2 separate regions of the Homo sapiens genome follow, and region 2 is linked to region 1. The links come from fine-mapping of genetic effects on gene expression. Tissue or cell type: esophagus muscle. Region 1 holds a variant in brackets; the other region holds the start of a gene. All regions are shown on one strand. Distances are between the middles of the regions.

Region 1 (8,192 bases):
ATATTATGTAGTATGCTTGTCCTTCATTTGTTACTAAGCAATATGTTCACTATACATATATACATCGTTATTAGAGCACAGATATTACATGATCATGCTGCCATTCAAAATTAAGGTGCCACAGTTTTATTACAATCAAATGGCATCCAAAATGCAATGTTGCTATGAAAATTCAAAAGTTCTCACAGATTGGCATTTATGAAAGGAGTAGGTCACAATGAAATGGAATTTTATTTTGTACAAATGGAAAAGATTTATCATAAATATATAGACCAATATATAACATTGAAGAACAAGAAGCAGAAAGGAAACAATGCTCTTGCATAAAGATCAATTCGCTTTGCTGCTGTTGGAATAACAGGTTTCGCAGGGGGAGGCTTCTTGTTGTTCTTAGCCTGAGATTTCCCAAGTCCGTTGTTAACTTCAATGGGTTTTCCATAGCAGTCATAATTGGATAGTTCAAAATCTCTTGGTAAGCTTCCAACAATGCTGAAGTCATTAGATCTCAGATCAGACTTAGAAGTACAAACTTTTTTGCATCTGGTCTCACCAACCTAAGAATAAATATTGAAGACAATGTATTTAAAACTTTTCTACTTACGAAACACATCTCTTCAAACGATATTTTTAAAATTGCTAGTTTCTACAAGAAGCATTTGCTTATGTCACAAAGAACTAACAGAGAGAATGGTTATCTGATTAAACCATCAGATTGCCTGAGCATTTAGGGCTCTAAAATATTGCCTACATAATAAGGCTTATGTCATGGAATGAACTTTTGATTGGTTATTTCATGCTAAGGAATCAAAGCTCAGATTAATTTTAGGTGCTACCAGGCTTGTGAAAGTTCTCAGTTGTAGGACTAATAAATAAACATCCATTTTTGCTCCAATATTTAACCATGACAGAGACAATATTCTACAATGTATGGATTATAAAAATGTTCTGATATTACTAGCCTTTGACTTCCTTATAGATCCTATTTCCAAGTAGAGCGGTTTATAAATGCTAAGTAATTTATCTCTCCAATGAGACAGACTTTCTCTAAGCCACATTCACAAACAAGGACTAAAAAATGGTCACAATTGTCATGAATCAAACGTTTACTAGTGATAGGCATTCCCAACTTGTTGGCTGAACTTAACCAATCACGCTCAGACAATACAAAGGAATTATGTATCCTTCAGATAGACCATATGCTACAGAGATTATTATTCAGTCACTAATTTCTGAATTATTAAATTTGAATAAATTCCCTATAATATATAAAATAATTACAGTTACAACATGGGTTTGAACTGCAAGGGTCCACTTATACATGGGCTTTTTTTCAATAAATACAGTTGCCCCTTGTATCTATAGGTTCTGAATTTACATCCAAATGCAGATCAAAAATACAGTGTTCACAAAATCCATGGATATAGAGGGTCAACTTTTTGTATCCACAGGTTCCACAGGGCAGACTGCAGGGACTTGAGTATGCATAGATTTTGATATCTGCAGGGGATACTGGAACCAATTCCCCACAGATACAAAAGGACAATTATATTTTATGCTGAACTCTCTCTAGTAATCAAAATGCTCTTAGATTAGAGGAGTAGGCTAATACCAATGATTGAGAATAGCACTTACATATTACAAAAGTCCACAAAAAGGTTAGCTCTTGGCTAGATTGCTTCATTTTCTCACTGTTCTTACCATTGAGTTTTGCTATTCACCTTCAGAATCTTCACTATTGACATTTACTCAATTTTTATTGAACATGGAAACCATTTAATTGTATATTATTAGTATATCACAGTTACTCTAGTAACTGCTTTATTAATATAATTAATACATTGACTAATTCTATAGATTCTATTTACATTTACTAAATTATAGCTGGGTTAAAAACACTATACCTCACACAATAAATAAAACAAATCTTTCCTCAACAGTACTTTAGGTACCAGGAGACTATCCTTTACCTGAATACACATATATTTATATATATATTTCCTAGACAAGAGCCAGATAGCAGTGTTCAAAGGTGGATAGCAAAAATGCCCAAGATAAAGTGACTGACAAAGCAAGTTAAATGTATTTATACATCCTTCTGTGATTATACATTTAAATTATTACCATTTCTTCTCTAATTATGAGCATATATTGATGTTATATTTCTTAAGCTAGCATACAAATGTTGGCTTTGTTATTATATACTTTATGCCATATATATATTTGTAAAATGCCAGTGGGTAAGAAACTTTTAAAAAGATATTTATGTAAATATGTTTGCAGAAAAATACCCAAAAAATGTTGATGAGGAATAGGGATTGAGGAACTAGAAGTTCACCTTTCTATACATTTGATATTTGAAAAAAAAGATGTAAATCACCAACATGTTGACTTATTTAGCAATTGTTCATTATAAAATAGCCCAAATGGAAACATAGTCCCATCCTTGTTCAATAGGACTTTGAGGTAGTATTTAATAGCATGATTTTTTTTTCTAGACAGTTTCATTATCATACTACCTCATTTTTGTTACCAGTAATTTTCAGAAGTGACAGAAGTTTATATGATGAAAGTAAATGAGACACATATTCATAAGGAACAATTGAGAAATTATTAATTGTAGGTTAATATAGCCAAATTCGCTTCTAAGAATGTGTGTCAAGAAGTAGGCCAATGTGAAAAAAGTGGCTTCTTGTCTGCACCCCCTCACTCCACTTTTTTAATGTGCAGTTACAATTTACCAATTGTGAGAGCTCAACTGAGTGTGAAAGAGCAGTGCCTACATCTGCATGGCATCAAGAAGTACGGACAGGCTTTAGTCCCTATCAATTTATACTCTGTATCTAGCAAAATGTCTGACAAAAAAAAAAAAATAGGAACTGGTTGATGTGGTTTGGATATTTGTCTCCTCCAAATTTCATGTTGAAATGTGACTCCCGGTGTTGGAGGTGGGGCCTAGTGGGAGGTGTTTGGGTCACGGGGCCAGATCCCTCATGACTGGCTTGGTGTCCTCCCTGGGGTAATGAATGAGTTGTCCCTCTGTTAGTTCAAGTGAAAATTGACTGTTAAAAAGAGCCTAGCACCTGCCCTCCCTCTCACTCCCACTCTTGCCATCTGACATGCCAGCTTTCCTGCACCTTCCACCATAACTGTAACCTTCCTGAGGCCCTCATTGGAAGCAGATTCTGATGCCATGCTTCTAGTACAGCTTGCAAAACCATAAGCCAAATAAACCCATTTTCTTATAAATTATACAGCCTCACGTATTTCCTTTATAGCAGCACAAAACGGACTATACACAAGTCGAAAGAGTGAGAGAGAGAAAAAGTAGCAACTAAAATCTAAACTCTTTAAATATGACTTCAGGAAATGCACACACACACAGAAACATATACAAATATACATCTAATTTTTGCCCCATTTATCTAAGTTGAATTTTTAAAAGACTACTTTCATCAATTTGTCCACCACCTCACCTCCAACAGTACTTGCACAGGCATGCATGCATGTGCACACACACACAGACTTGCACACTCACATCTGCCCTATTATTGTTACAGACAGAACATCAGAGAGAAGACCACATTTAATCTTCAGTTTTCCAGTGCAGTTTGAGGAATGTGTGAGTCTCCACATGTATCAGTGAACTTTTGTAAAGAGTAACTCACTATCTTGATTGGAATAGAAGTGGAGAACAGACTGTACATATCAAATCTTTGCATTGCCCTAAGACTTTCAGAGAAATCTTTAAAATCAAGGATTCTATGTGTATCATAGTTGCTCTTTCTCCCTTTAGAATTCCCCATTATAAAGGCTTTAGATGTACTCATTATGCTTTTGAAGCTACTTATCATAACAAAGGAGTACTCTAGATTCTGCCTATAGACTTAATGGCTTAAAACCAAGTATATTTAGAATATACTGTAGAAATGCATTTGCTATAAATCATATTTTTATATCATTTTAGGTGTGGTTTTAGTATCTGTAAATAACTAAACAAATGGCCAAATTTATATAATATTATAACCTAGGCCACAAATAAATATTTCCAATTTTCTAATCTATTTTATTTATATAACCATATAAATTCTGCCAGCAATTTAAATAATATTAGGATTTGATCCAGTTTATTCAAACTATAGATATAGAATATTATGTTTATTCACAGAGATTACTTATAGTAAACATGTCAGTAAGAGAATAATTTTTTCAGTGTTGAAGCCATAACATTACAAAGCATTCCAAAAAAGCTGCAAATTGGTTATATTAAGTTTCTAGCCATTTAAGTCTTTAAAACGTCTCTCGGAGATATATTTGAAGATTCTTGTATTCAAGAATAAGTAGAGGTGCACATGTGGGGTGGACGGAACCTCTATTACAGAAGTAATTTTTAATGATAATGACATACTGAATAAAGAATAAGATTAGTTTCCCTAATGAGAAGTACTCAGGGCTTCTTAAATAGGTCATGGTTCATTAAGTAGTTGGCTAGTCTCCTTGCCCCATTCATCACAGATTTTACACAAAGAAAATTTTCTGTTACACCTTATTATCATATCAAATATATACATGAAAGTACAAAAGAGTTTACACTATAAATACTATTTTAAACAGTTATAACATCACATGAAAAGAGATGAAATAAACTGCTTATAAACAAGACATTAACCCTACTTAACACACATTCTTAAAAGCGAATTTGGCTATATTAACCTACAATTAATAATTTCTCAGTTGTTCCTTATTACAAATATGTGTCTCATTTACTTTCATCATATAAACTTCTGTCACTTCTGAAAATTATTGGCAACAAAAATGAGGTAGTGTGATAATGAAACTGTCAAGAATAAAAAA[AC/C]GATGCTATTAATAACTTTCTAATGCCTCCAACTTTAGCCTCTAAGATTTTCTTTGTGGTTCTTTTAAGTTTCATTCCACACAAATTTAAAAGCAAATAACTTTATGCAGTATTTCTTGACCAGAATAATTAGGCACGATTTCATGTCAATAATGGCATCCTCTACAGACAATAAAATATGTTCAGAGGGAATAATTTGTATATATTTTGCTAAATTTAAGTCCATTAAATCATTACCATTAAAAGATCTCCTTTACATATAAACAGCAGCTTTTATTTTCTAATTTATATAAAATTGTAGGCATAGGTACTATTTTCTTTGTCTTTTATTCATAAAACCTTTGTGTATGGCACATACTAGTGTTAGAAATAGGGTGACATTAACAACAGTAGGTTCTTAACTGCTTTGTTGAATAAAAATAGGAATACATGAATGAACAAACAAAAGTAACCAAGATATTGGAATGACTGAAAAAGCACCACTTTTACTGGGAAAAAAAATCCTCCAGACAATTATATAGGCATGGTAACATGTTTTTGTATACAGGCCACAAATTATAAAAACCTCATAGTAAAAGCTATACATTATCATTTAATTTTTTTCTACTTTTTAAATCATTCATTTCCTTAGGAAGCACAATATTATTTTATACATCAGCTTCAAACATTTCCTACAATCCAAATTATATTACACTTCTGTTAATTATTATTGTTATTCTATTGAATAACAATATTGAAATTATTTGGCAAAAGTTTGCATTTAGAAAGGCAAAGTACATTAGAAAAAATGCATTTTGAAACCAAAAGTTTAATTACATTTTTCATTGCAAAACCATTGAATTAAAAAGATAATAATTTATAAATTTCTACTTTTATATCTTCTTTCATATGTCAATATGTAAAATCTTATGACTCATCAAGTTACACATTTGATGTAAGTTATTATTAGACTCATGTTATCATTTTGAAGCCTGTCTCAGGAAACAAATATTCTATGGGTACAAAGTTTATTCTGGAAAGTGCATTTTTGTCCTGTAAAGAATAAAAGTAATTTACATTTATTTCTAAAGATTAAAATTTCTGGTCAATTCTTAACTCTATGCATCTCTCGTTGTCTTTTGAAGCAAAATGTCACAGCAGTTTCAGAATTCAAACAAGTGTGTTTCTATGAGCAGTTAAAAACATAGAGAATTAAAATATAAAAGTTCTTATATGTGTTTAACTTTTATTTATTGGGTAATTATTTTAATTATTAGTTTTAATTTTAATGCTTTAAAGATAAACTTAAAATAACATAATTGGGTTTACTACTTCATGGATCCTCTCATCCTTGCTATCCATGTTCATAAATAATCTGAATGTATTCTACAATGCTCTAGAAAGCTGGTTCTAGATAGCCTCCTTCTATCAGTACCCCTACTTGATGGAATAGATTAAGGTATCAGGATCATTGCACATTAGTATTCTGTTACTACATTTAATTTAATGTAGTAACAGAATTTAATTTAATTGCTTATTAGTATTGTTACTACATTTAATTCCTGTGCTTATTGAGGACCTATAATATACCAGCCAATGGAGCTGATCGTAGGGATTACCAGGAATCAAGCACCTGTTCTATAGAGCATCCTTGCTTTCTGTATCCAAATCTCTTAACCAGAGGTCAAGTTAGAGGGGATTGGTGGGCTGGAAATGTGAGGAAGTGGTAAAAGATAGGGAGATGTAAATCGAGGAGTAGATAACAAGTGTCAAAAAATCAGGTAGAGAACACTTCCACATAACATAAGGCTCTCAGGTAATCTTCCTTCCATTTCTGGCCTGGAGAAATAACTGTATGCTTTAGAAGGGGAAGCACAGTTTCTCACAAACAGTATGCTTTCAATACCAGTTCTTCGTCATGCCAAAGCATGCCCTTAAGCAATCCCTTAGTTCTTCTGGATATTATGTGGCTTCTTAGACTTGGGTGGTAACAGAGACAAAAAAAAAAAATACTGGTAAAGGGAATAATAATTACTCCAAATGTTTGTTTTCCTGGTGTAGGATTTTAGTAAGTCTGAAATGACCCAGTAGACAGAACAGCAACAACAATGAAAGTGTTAAGAGTAGCCCATTGATAAATCTATTTAATTATTAGAGTGTGGTAGGCAGGGTGCAGGTATGATGAGGATGCTGAGGGCCTCGAAAAGCATAGAGGACTTCTACATCCAGGAAGATAGAGTAGACATACCTTTCCTATTCCTCCTGCTAAGTTCAATAAAAAATCCTGGACATTATATTAAAACACACACACACACACACACACACTCACACAGACAGACTATAAAAGGGAGAGAAGAGGAAGCAGATGAGCCTGGGGACTCAGGATCCCAGGAACCATAAAATGGTGAGTTCCTGCATTCCCCCTTTTGTCTCATATAATCCCAGATTTGGAGCTAAAGAAGCCAGCAAGTGGAAATGCCAATGGGTACAGACATAAAAACCCCAACAGCCTCCGATGTTTAGCCAGAAGACAAAGAAAGGGGCAGCCCAGCAATACAGAACACTTTTAGATATTAACCTCTCTATTCTTGCCAAATACTACAGAAAAAAATGTGCTCCCACCCCACCCCAACGGACATGCCAGCAATGTCCAAGAGGTGAGGGGGCCAAGGCTTGGACTTTAAAAAGGCTGTGATGATCATAGGTTCCAAGATGGCCAAATAGGAACAGCTCCAGTCTACCCCTCCCAGAGTGAGTGATGCAGAAGATGGGTGATTTCTGCATTTCCAACTGAGGTACCGGGTTCATCTCACTGGGGCTTGTCTGACTGTCGGTGCAGCCCATGGAGCAGGGTGGGGCACTGCCTCACAGGGAAGTGCAAGGGGTTGGGGAATTCCCTTTCCTAGCAAAGGGAAGCTGTGACAGATGGTACCTGGAAAATCGGGACACTCCCACCATAATACTGTGCTTTTCCAACGGTCTTAGCAAATGGCACACCAGGAAATTATATCCCATGCGTGGCTCGGAGGGTCCCATGCCCACGGAGCCTCGCTCACTGCTAGCACAGCAGTCTGAGATCGAACTGCGAGGTGGAAGCGAGGCTGGGGGAGGGGTGTCCGCCATTGCTGAAGCTTGAGTAGGTAAACAAAGTGGCTGAGAAGCTCAAACTGGGTGGAGCCCACCACAGCACAAGGAGGCCTGCCTGCCTCTCTAGACTCCACCTCTGGGGGCAGGCCTAGTTGAACAAAAGGCAGCACAAACTTCTGCAGACTTAAAATGTCCCTGTCTGACAGCTTTGAAGAGAGTAGTGGTTCTCCCAGCACAGAGTTTGAGATCTGAGAATGGACAGACTGCCTTCTCA
Region 2 (8,192 bases), 91 kb after region 1:
AGACTTCCAGCAGCATCACATCACAACTGTTAATAAAGCTTGATCTAGTCTCATAATTATTTTTAAAAAACCTATAATGTAAAAATTCAAAGATAAAATTTCAATTAATTACTCAACATATCTAAAATATTGAGATGTGGGCTTAACAGGTATATGTTGGGTCTTCCACTTGAAGATGTCATATTCATCAGAAGAGAACTCTTATTGTTATACTCTTTATCTACTAAATTTAACTTTGAAAATCTGTCTTAAATAACTATACACACCGTAAGTATATACAGTCTACACATAAGGCTATTTAATAATGTAGTTGTGAAAAGAGAATGTCCTCTAAAATACTCTCGTAATATATATGGTAGTTATAAGATTTGCTGTTGCCATCTTCAGAATAATTTGATTATGACATTTGATGTAGGATGGGGGGTGGGTGTACTGGGAGAACAGGAGCCTTATCAGCTTGCTCAGATACAGAAACCCAAGATGGCTTGATTCCATACATAGAATTACGGTGACTATATGACATAGACAACAGTTTGTGTTAATGTCCCAACATTCATCAAAGAAAAGGTAATAGAAAGAATATCTAAAACACAAAGAAGTGTCCTTTCGCTTAGGAATACTAAGGCCTGACAATGTCCAGTTCCCTAAAATGCTAATCTCCAGCTTGTGGCACAAAAACAGTAACAGTGAAGAGTTGAGATGGTTGTAGATTGTGGTTATTCCTGAACCTGCCTCCATTGTTCCCAGCTGATATCCAGCTGGGCAGATGGCCAAGGAGGGACACACAAACATAATTCAGGGCCATTGTGTCATATACCCAGAAATTTGGCCCTGACATCAGAATATGCTGCAGCACTAGAATAAGCAGGACTATTAAGGGTGAAAATCAGGAAATATCCCTTCACATGGAGCTGAATTTAATGCTAGACATTACGTGGATCATGATACTCTCTCCAGAATTTTACTCTCACAAATTCATACAAACACCTATTACAAAATACCAATTCTAGTGTCCTTTCTTTACAAAATATACTTCCCAAAATGTACCTCATCTCTTATGGAACATCTGTAAAACCATAATAATCTCTATTTAAATAATAATGATGCTGGAATAAAATGTTATCTATGATCAATATTACATTTGAGAAATATTAATTGAAGATGACCTGTAATAGAAAATTAACTTTTATTCCAAATCACTGCATATATTGCATTATTACCTAAAAGCACGTTATATTTTGAGAAAGTTGTTTACTTATATACTGTACAATTGCTCTATTTTACTTTCATTGACCAGTAATGTTAATCTTTCCTATTAAAAAAAAGACTTGGCCAGGTGCGGTGAACCACGCCTGTAATCCCAGCACTTTGGGATGCCAAGGCGAGCAGATCACCCAGGGTCAGGAGTTGGAGACCAGACAGGTCAACATGGTGAAATCCTGTCTCTACTAAAAAATACAAAAATTAGCTGGGCGTGGTGGTGGGCACCTGTAATCCCAGCTACTTGGGAGGCTGAGGCAGGAGAATTGCTTGAACCCGGGAGGTAGAGGTTGCAGTGAGTAGATAATTGTGCCACTGCACTCCAGCCTGGGTGACAGAAAGAGACTTCATCTAAAAAAAATAAACAAGACTCCACACCACAAAACTTTGTCTTTTGTGGGGGATGTGTTGGATTTAGAATTTGTGTTTTCAAGTAATTTCAAATTTAATGACCTGCTTTCTACAAAATATCCTAATCTCCTAATATAACCTATTTACAATTACTAAATTAGAAAATTGATCTATCATATGAATTTCCTTTTGCCATGCATACATATGAACTGACCTTAAGATCACAGTTACCTATCTGACTTTTAAATAAAATATTATTAAATATTTTAGGGTTTTTTTAAAAAAAAACTTTTTGAACTGGTATTTGCTCAAAACACAGTATATCAGTATCCAATTAAAGTTGCACAGCACATTTAGCATAAGAAAAAAATAGTGACTTTTTCTACTTTTGTAAACAGTGTATAAAAATTATATAAACCCATGGCATGATTTAAAAAAAGAAAACTATAAAACCACCTTGAACATTGGGAATTAATTCTTACATTCTAAACCTCTCCTCACCCTATCATTTTCTGTCTCTGTAACAGATGGATATACATTCCGATATGAAAAGTTTTGTTGATGTGTGTCTTCATAAACCACCTTACTTTTATAAAACACGCAATAACATTTCTCCATATAAGAATATAAGACATGAAGAACATACGATGGGCATAGATACTGCTTCTTTTTCCCCTTCCCTTTCTTTGAAGACTTTTCCTTAGAATAGGCTTCTTCCACCCACAAGGAAATTAAAATTAAAAAGGCAGTTGTCAATAAAAACTTCATCTTGAAAACTTGAATTTCAGAAGATCGATCTACAAGAGAGAACAAGAAAATGTTTACATTTATGAAGAAAATGATAACTATATGACTGTCCCTTTAAAGAGTATAAGCATTACTACCCAAAGGGCAAGTACATTTGTACATCAAATCCTCATTGCTCAGTCCTATGTGGTAATACTTCACAACATATTTAGTATTTTTTATATAGTAGTTGTAAAGTCTTTTTTATATAGCAGTAAAAGTCAGTTTAAATAATGGCACATAGAAAACAAGACCGCCAACGAGATATAATAGGTTACTGTATAAAATTTCTGATTCTATAGCTACACAAAATTATAAATTGATATTGAATTGCACAGTATATCAAAAATATGTTCAGAAAGATATCTGGAAGCATGGTTTAACACAGCGTTAAAATGATTATCTTCGGCTAGTACTTTGGAAGTATCTTTTTCTTTTTAAATTTTTATATTGTTTGAAGTTCTTATGTATATTTTTTCAAAAATAATGTATTTTAAAGAAAAAGAAATTCTAAGTATTAAAAAAGACAGATAAAAGAAAAAGTTAATATCAAAGAGTTCCACATTCAAAATTCATTGCTTTTTTTATTTAAACACATTACATTGGCAAGCTACCTTTTTGCCCCAAAAAGGTGCCTCTTAAGTTAGCTTTAAAGCTTTCTTACTTATTTGCTACTAACATTTGTCATCAAAAAGATTACTTCAGAAATTCTACAACAAGAAATAAAACAAGTGTTGTTACATTTTTTTCAAATTATCGTCCTAGCCATATTTTAATAACATTTTCATGCTCAAATCAGAACCATATTCTTGCCAGAGATTCTGATAAATAAAAAATAATTAAGCCTCTACCTACACTAGAGAAGTTCAAACTCTTCTGCAACCTTCATTTCCAAACCATAAATTGTTTCTCTTTCATTGTTTTCCGCAGAGTAAAAGACCTGTCATATTCTTCAACGCTAACTTAATTCCCATCTCACCCTCAGAAATTTGCTTCTCCTTATGTCATGTTTTTCATCTTCCCCCCCCCCCCCCAGGATTCTTCCCCCCATATTTATCTTTTACACACACTCCAGGCAAGCCAGAGGGGCTTCTCCCTGGGTACTTTAAATTGAAGACAACAGAGGGGGCTCATCAGACCAACAGCAACAACACAAGGTTCTCCTCTGGCAACTTCACAACATTGGACGCTCCCTTCCCCCATCCGACAGCGGCACCTGCTTCCAGACACCTTGCCCACAGCAGCAGGTACTTCTCCCACTTTCACATCCTTGCCCCCGCAAAAAGGAGGGCCGAGCCCCCCTAACGCTTCGAAAAACAGAGAAATTCACCACTCTGCTCTGTCCTCACCCCCAATCTTTCAAGGGGGACAGCTGCATTGACTGGAGGATCCTCATAAACAAAACAACGCAAGGAGCCCTCCTGGCCAACCTTGCGTTTCCTAATTACCCCGGCCCTCTGCATCTCTCCACCCGGAGCGTCTCCGCGGGCGCCACCGCAGCGGGGACCCGGCTGCCGCTGCCAGGCGCCCCGCGCCCCTCTCCCGCGCAGGGCAGCGCGCGTCCTCCCGGGCACGCCGCAGTGCTCCTCGCGCTCCGCCGCCCCGGGCTTGACCCGCTGTTTCCGCAAAGGCGTCTATTCCCGTCCTCAGACCACCGTCGCCGCCCCAACCCGCGTCCCCTCCTCCTAAGTGGAGCTCCTGGCACTTACCCGGAGGCGCCCCTGCCCACAATCGCCGGGCGAGATCGTGGAGGCTCCGGGCCCAGGTGGCAGTGGCTGCTAAGGGTGCAGCGGGCGCCGAGCGGGGGCAGCTGCGTCCCAGCCGCCCGCGCCACCGCCGAGCTCGGCTGACGCGCCTGCTCGGGCCGCGGAGCCTGCGCCGTGGCGCGCCGCGGTCGGGGCCGCAGCGGGGACAGCGCGGGCCGCGGGGGAACCTGGCGACCGCGGGCGGGGGAGGGAAGAGGTGTCCCGACAGAGCAACGTCACGGCATCGTCCCCTTCAGGCATTGGAGGGGTTACCGAGCAGAAATGTGTACCCCCCTCACTCCTTAGGGGACTAAAGGAGTTGGGGACGAAGGGCGGGAATGATAGTGTCGGTACAAAAAGAAAAAACCTTTCAAGGAGCTGGGATTGCTTGGGGTCAGCTTTTGACCACTAGCAACAAACAACAGAGCAACAAATGACCTTCTTGGGTCAAAGCGAACAAAACACATTTTCTGTCATTTCACCATTTGCCTGGAACCCAGACATCCAGCTTAATCTCCGGGTCTTCCAATTTCTAAAAGCCTGAACTTTCTGAGCAAGCTTAAATTGGTCAAAATTACTGACAATATAGTCATACAGGTAATACTATGTTTAACATCTGTTACATAATTAACATGTGTACAGAACTTGACAGTTGCAAAACACCTTTCACTCGCCTTATCTCATGTGGCCCTCACCACATTCCTGGGCAAGTTTTGTCATCCCCTTCTGTAGATGAAGAATCTGAAACTCAGTTATATTAAGAGATTTACTTAGAGTTACAGATCTTGAAAGAAATTTACCAGAGATTCAAAATTAGTGATTTTTGCATATCTGAACCAGACAGGGTCTCTGCCTTATAAGAGCAAAATACTGTTGTCCTCATCCTTGTGAAGAAGTAGCCCTTACTTGGATATGCAGCCCTTAGATAACAGATAAGGCTATCCTATTACCTCTTGAATGTATGCCTGATTGATTTTTTTTAATTGTTATTTTTTAAGCAACAGGAGCTCACTTTGTTGCCCAGGCTGGAGTGCAGAGGCACAGTCATCGCTCACCGCAGTCTTGAACTTCTGGGCAATCAAGAGATCCTCTTGTCTCGGTCTCCCTAGTAGAGTAGCTGGAACAACAGACAGGCCATTGCGCTCCACTAATTATTATTATTATTTTTTAAGAGACAGCATCTCTGGCTTTGTTGTCCAGGATGGTCTCCAACTCTGGCCTGAAGCCATCCGCCTGCCTTAGCCTCCCAAGCTGGGGGGCTTACAGGCTTGAGCCACCCCACCCCACTGCACCAGGTCCTGATGGATTTTTTTTATTAAAAAAGCATTGTCTCAAGTGAGCATCACTTAGCATTGTATTGTGGACCCACAGATGTATCCACTAATAAATTTTTCCACCCGCAGCATATGGAGGGAAGGAATATTTCCTGCATATAACCGTGTTCCATAAGCTTCATGAGATATTCTGCTGCCTAAGAGTAGTGATCATTAATAAGTGATCATTACCTTATTTACATTACAAAATGATCATTATTCAAAGAGCTGTACTGTTTGAAGACCCCCCCGCCAAAGTGGATCAGGATATAACTTTGGATTTTAATGCTTTATTAGAGAGAACTATATTGATAATATACGTTTCATAAGATATAACTTTTGGTGAATAGGTCATATGAAGAATGATAAAGGAATTAGTTTTCATGCAGCCAGGGGAGTTTAGAAGTTGGCGAAAACCTTACACTTAGTTTTCAATTAATCAAGAAATTATTAAGAGTTTAGAATAATAGGAATTCCGATTCCTGTAATAAAATGAACATCTTTTATTTACAAACTCTAATGTCCACATTTGGAAGAACTATGCTGAAAATACCTACAACAGACTTGCTCACCTTCCCTAGTATTGTTTCTGTGCCATCCATGGATGTTATATTGGAGAATTAGGTTATTCAGAAGAAAAGCAAGTCCAGCAGGTTGGATGGGTTTGTAGGGTTTTGGCCCAAAGGTTAAGAAATATAGTTGATGCCCTAAAAGCACTTCTTCTAGCCTGTAAAATGGTCAAGTTCAGAATTCTGAAAATTTTTTTCTATGAAAGTGATCTGCTTACCTATATTTCTATAACTTTTATATCATAGTGTGAAAAGGGATGCTTCTAAATAATGTCATGAAATAACCTATTTTCCCCAATTCTGTCAAGTGTTGATCTACTTTTCTCTATTTATTTCTATCAATATTCACTCCTTTAGTAATTTCATCTGGTCACAAGGTTTTAAACACCATGTTGATAGCTCCCATATGTACTTCTCCTGACTAGACATCTCTCCAGAACTCCAGACTCATCTATCTAACTGCCTTTTCAACATTTCAACTTGCGTATTTAATAAACATGTCAAACTCAGTGTGTCCCAAACTGAGCTATGGTTCTCCCTAAAATCTGCCCCACATTCAGCCTTCTCCTTCTCAGTTCACGGCAACCTCATCCTTAGGGTTGGTCAGGCTAAAAATCATGAAGTTGTTCTTGATTCCGCTCTTTTTCTCACACCTCACAACCAAATCTCTGAGGAAATCCTGTTTACTCTCAAATGACAACAGGAATTCAGCTACTTCTTATGATTTTTACTGCAGCCAACCTAGACTCAGTGACTTTCATCTCTACGTTAGATTACTATAATAGCACTTTAGCTACTCACCCTGCCTCTATCATTGTCCTCTCCTACCCTTGAGTAATCTCAAAACAGTAGCCAGAGTGATCCCTTTAAAACATGTCATAGGTCATATTGTGTCATTCCTCAACTCAACACCCAGCAGTTAGTCCCCATTTTATAAACCAGTGTTTACAATGGTCTACAAACCTTCAATTGTTATGCATCTCCTCCCCCTAACTCTGACTTCTTCTCTCCTAATGGCTCGCTCTCTTTCAGCCCTGCTGATCTTGCTGCTTCTCCAACATGCCAAAGCCAGGTATGGTCCCATCTTAGGTTATTGGCTCCTCTGTCTAAAATGCTTTCCCCCCAGACCACCACATGACTGACTCCCTCATATCTTCAACATCAACCCAGATGTCACCGTCTCACAGAGATTTATCCAATGTTATTTAAAAGTGCAAACCATCTCCCATCCAAAGATTTCCAATCCCCCTTTGCCTGCTTTTCTTTTTGTTTTCATAGTACTTATTACCTCCCAACTCATCATACAATATACTTACAGTTTGTGGCCTCTGTTTCCTTGCTAAAATGTAGGCTTCATGAAGGCAGAGATTTGTATCTATTTTTGTCCATTGATGTTGCCCACACACCTAGAATAGTGTTGAATGAATGTGTAAATCTTGGCCTCATTTATTAATTTCTTCAAATTTCATGTTTCTTTATTAGTAAAATGAAAATGACAATGCATAATTTGCAGGATTGTACCAAGAAATAAACAGGTTAATTGACGTTAAAAATCTGCTGCAGAGAAGAAAAGTCACAAAGAATTAACCTCCCCTATTTTTGCTTGTTTTTATTTGCTTAATGGAATGATAGAATTTTGTTGTGGCTGTTTTTTTTTTAATTATTTTTAATTTTTGTGGGTACATGCATTTTTTGCTTACTGGGACCCTGTTATCCATTTCTTTCTTGTACGTCTACACTGAGAACATTTTGTAGGCCTACATCTAAACACTAAAAACCTTCTAACCTTCTTTTCTTTCTTTTTTCTTTTTTTTTTTCTTTTTGAAACAGGGTCTGGCTCTGTCGCCCCGGTTGGAGTACAGTGGCATGATCTTGATTCACTGCAACCTCCTCCTCTCATGCTCAAGCAAACTTCCTACCTCAGACTCCTGGGTAGCTAAGGACTCTATTTTCTATGCATCCATCTTCACCTGGCCTATAATATATTTATTTTATTTGACTTGATAATAAAACCTAAATACAGCCCTAAATATCTTCTGTTATACTAAGAAATCAAACTTTGGATACAGAGAGAGTATTCTCACCAAATCATTTTTTGTGTGTGACATAAGTACTCATCACTGTTGCCATTGCCTAAATAGCCTTACAACATGGTTTAAAGATATAAA

Direction of the effects. Alleles are on the strand shown, and positions count from the first base shown. SD is a standard deviation of normalised expression in the study named.
For the expression in esophagus muscle of the gene that starts at base 4,254 in region 2, AC is the low allele of the variant in region 1 and C is the other (moderate effect, 0.42 SD a copy in GTEx).

Evidence for each region. PIP is the estimated chance that this variant, and not a neighbour inherited with it, causes the effect.
Region 2: it holds the start of GLRB, and the variant in region 1 is fine-mapped to the expression of GLRB in esophagus muscle (GTEx, PIP above 0.99).

What each region holds. Positions count from the first base shown.
Region 1 is chr4:157,162,794-157,170,985 of GRCh38, reverse strand. It overlaps GLRB (glycine receptor beta), which reads right to left. Exons shown (of 10, transcript NM_000824.5): 10 at 1-554. The coding sequence ends at 258. Among named protein-coding and RNA genes, the nearest start is that of GRIA2, 54 kb to the left of the region's middle. The variant AC/C (reference allele first, on the strand shown) is at 4,852.
Region 2 is chr4:157,072,212-157,080,403 of GRCh38, reverse strand. GLRB (glycine receptor beta) reads right to left here and starts at 4,254. Exons shown (of 10, transcript NM_000824.5): 1 at 4,107-4,254; 2 at 2,258-2,408. The coding sequence starts at 2,379. RefSeq lists a silencer at 6,853-7,147.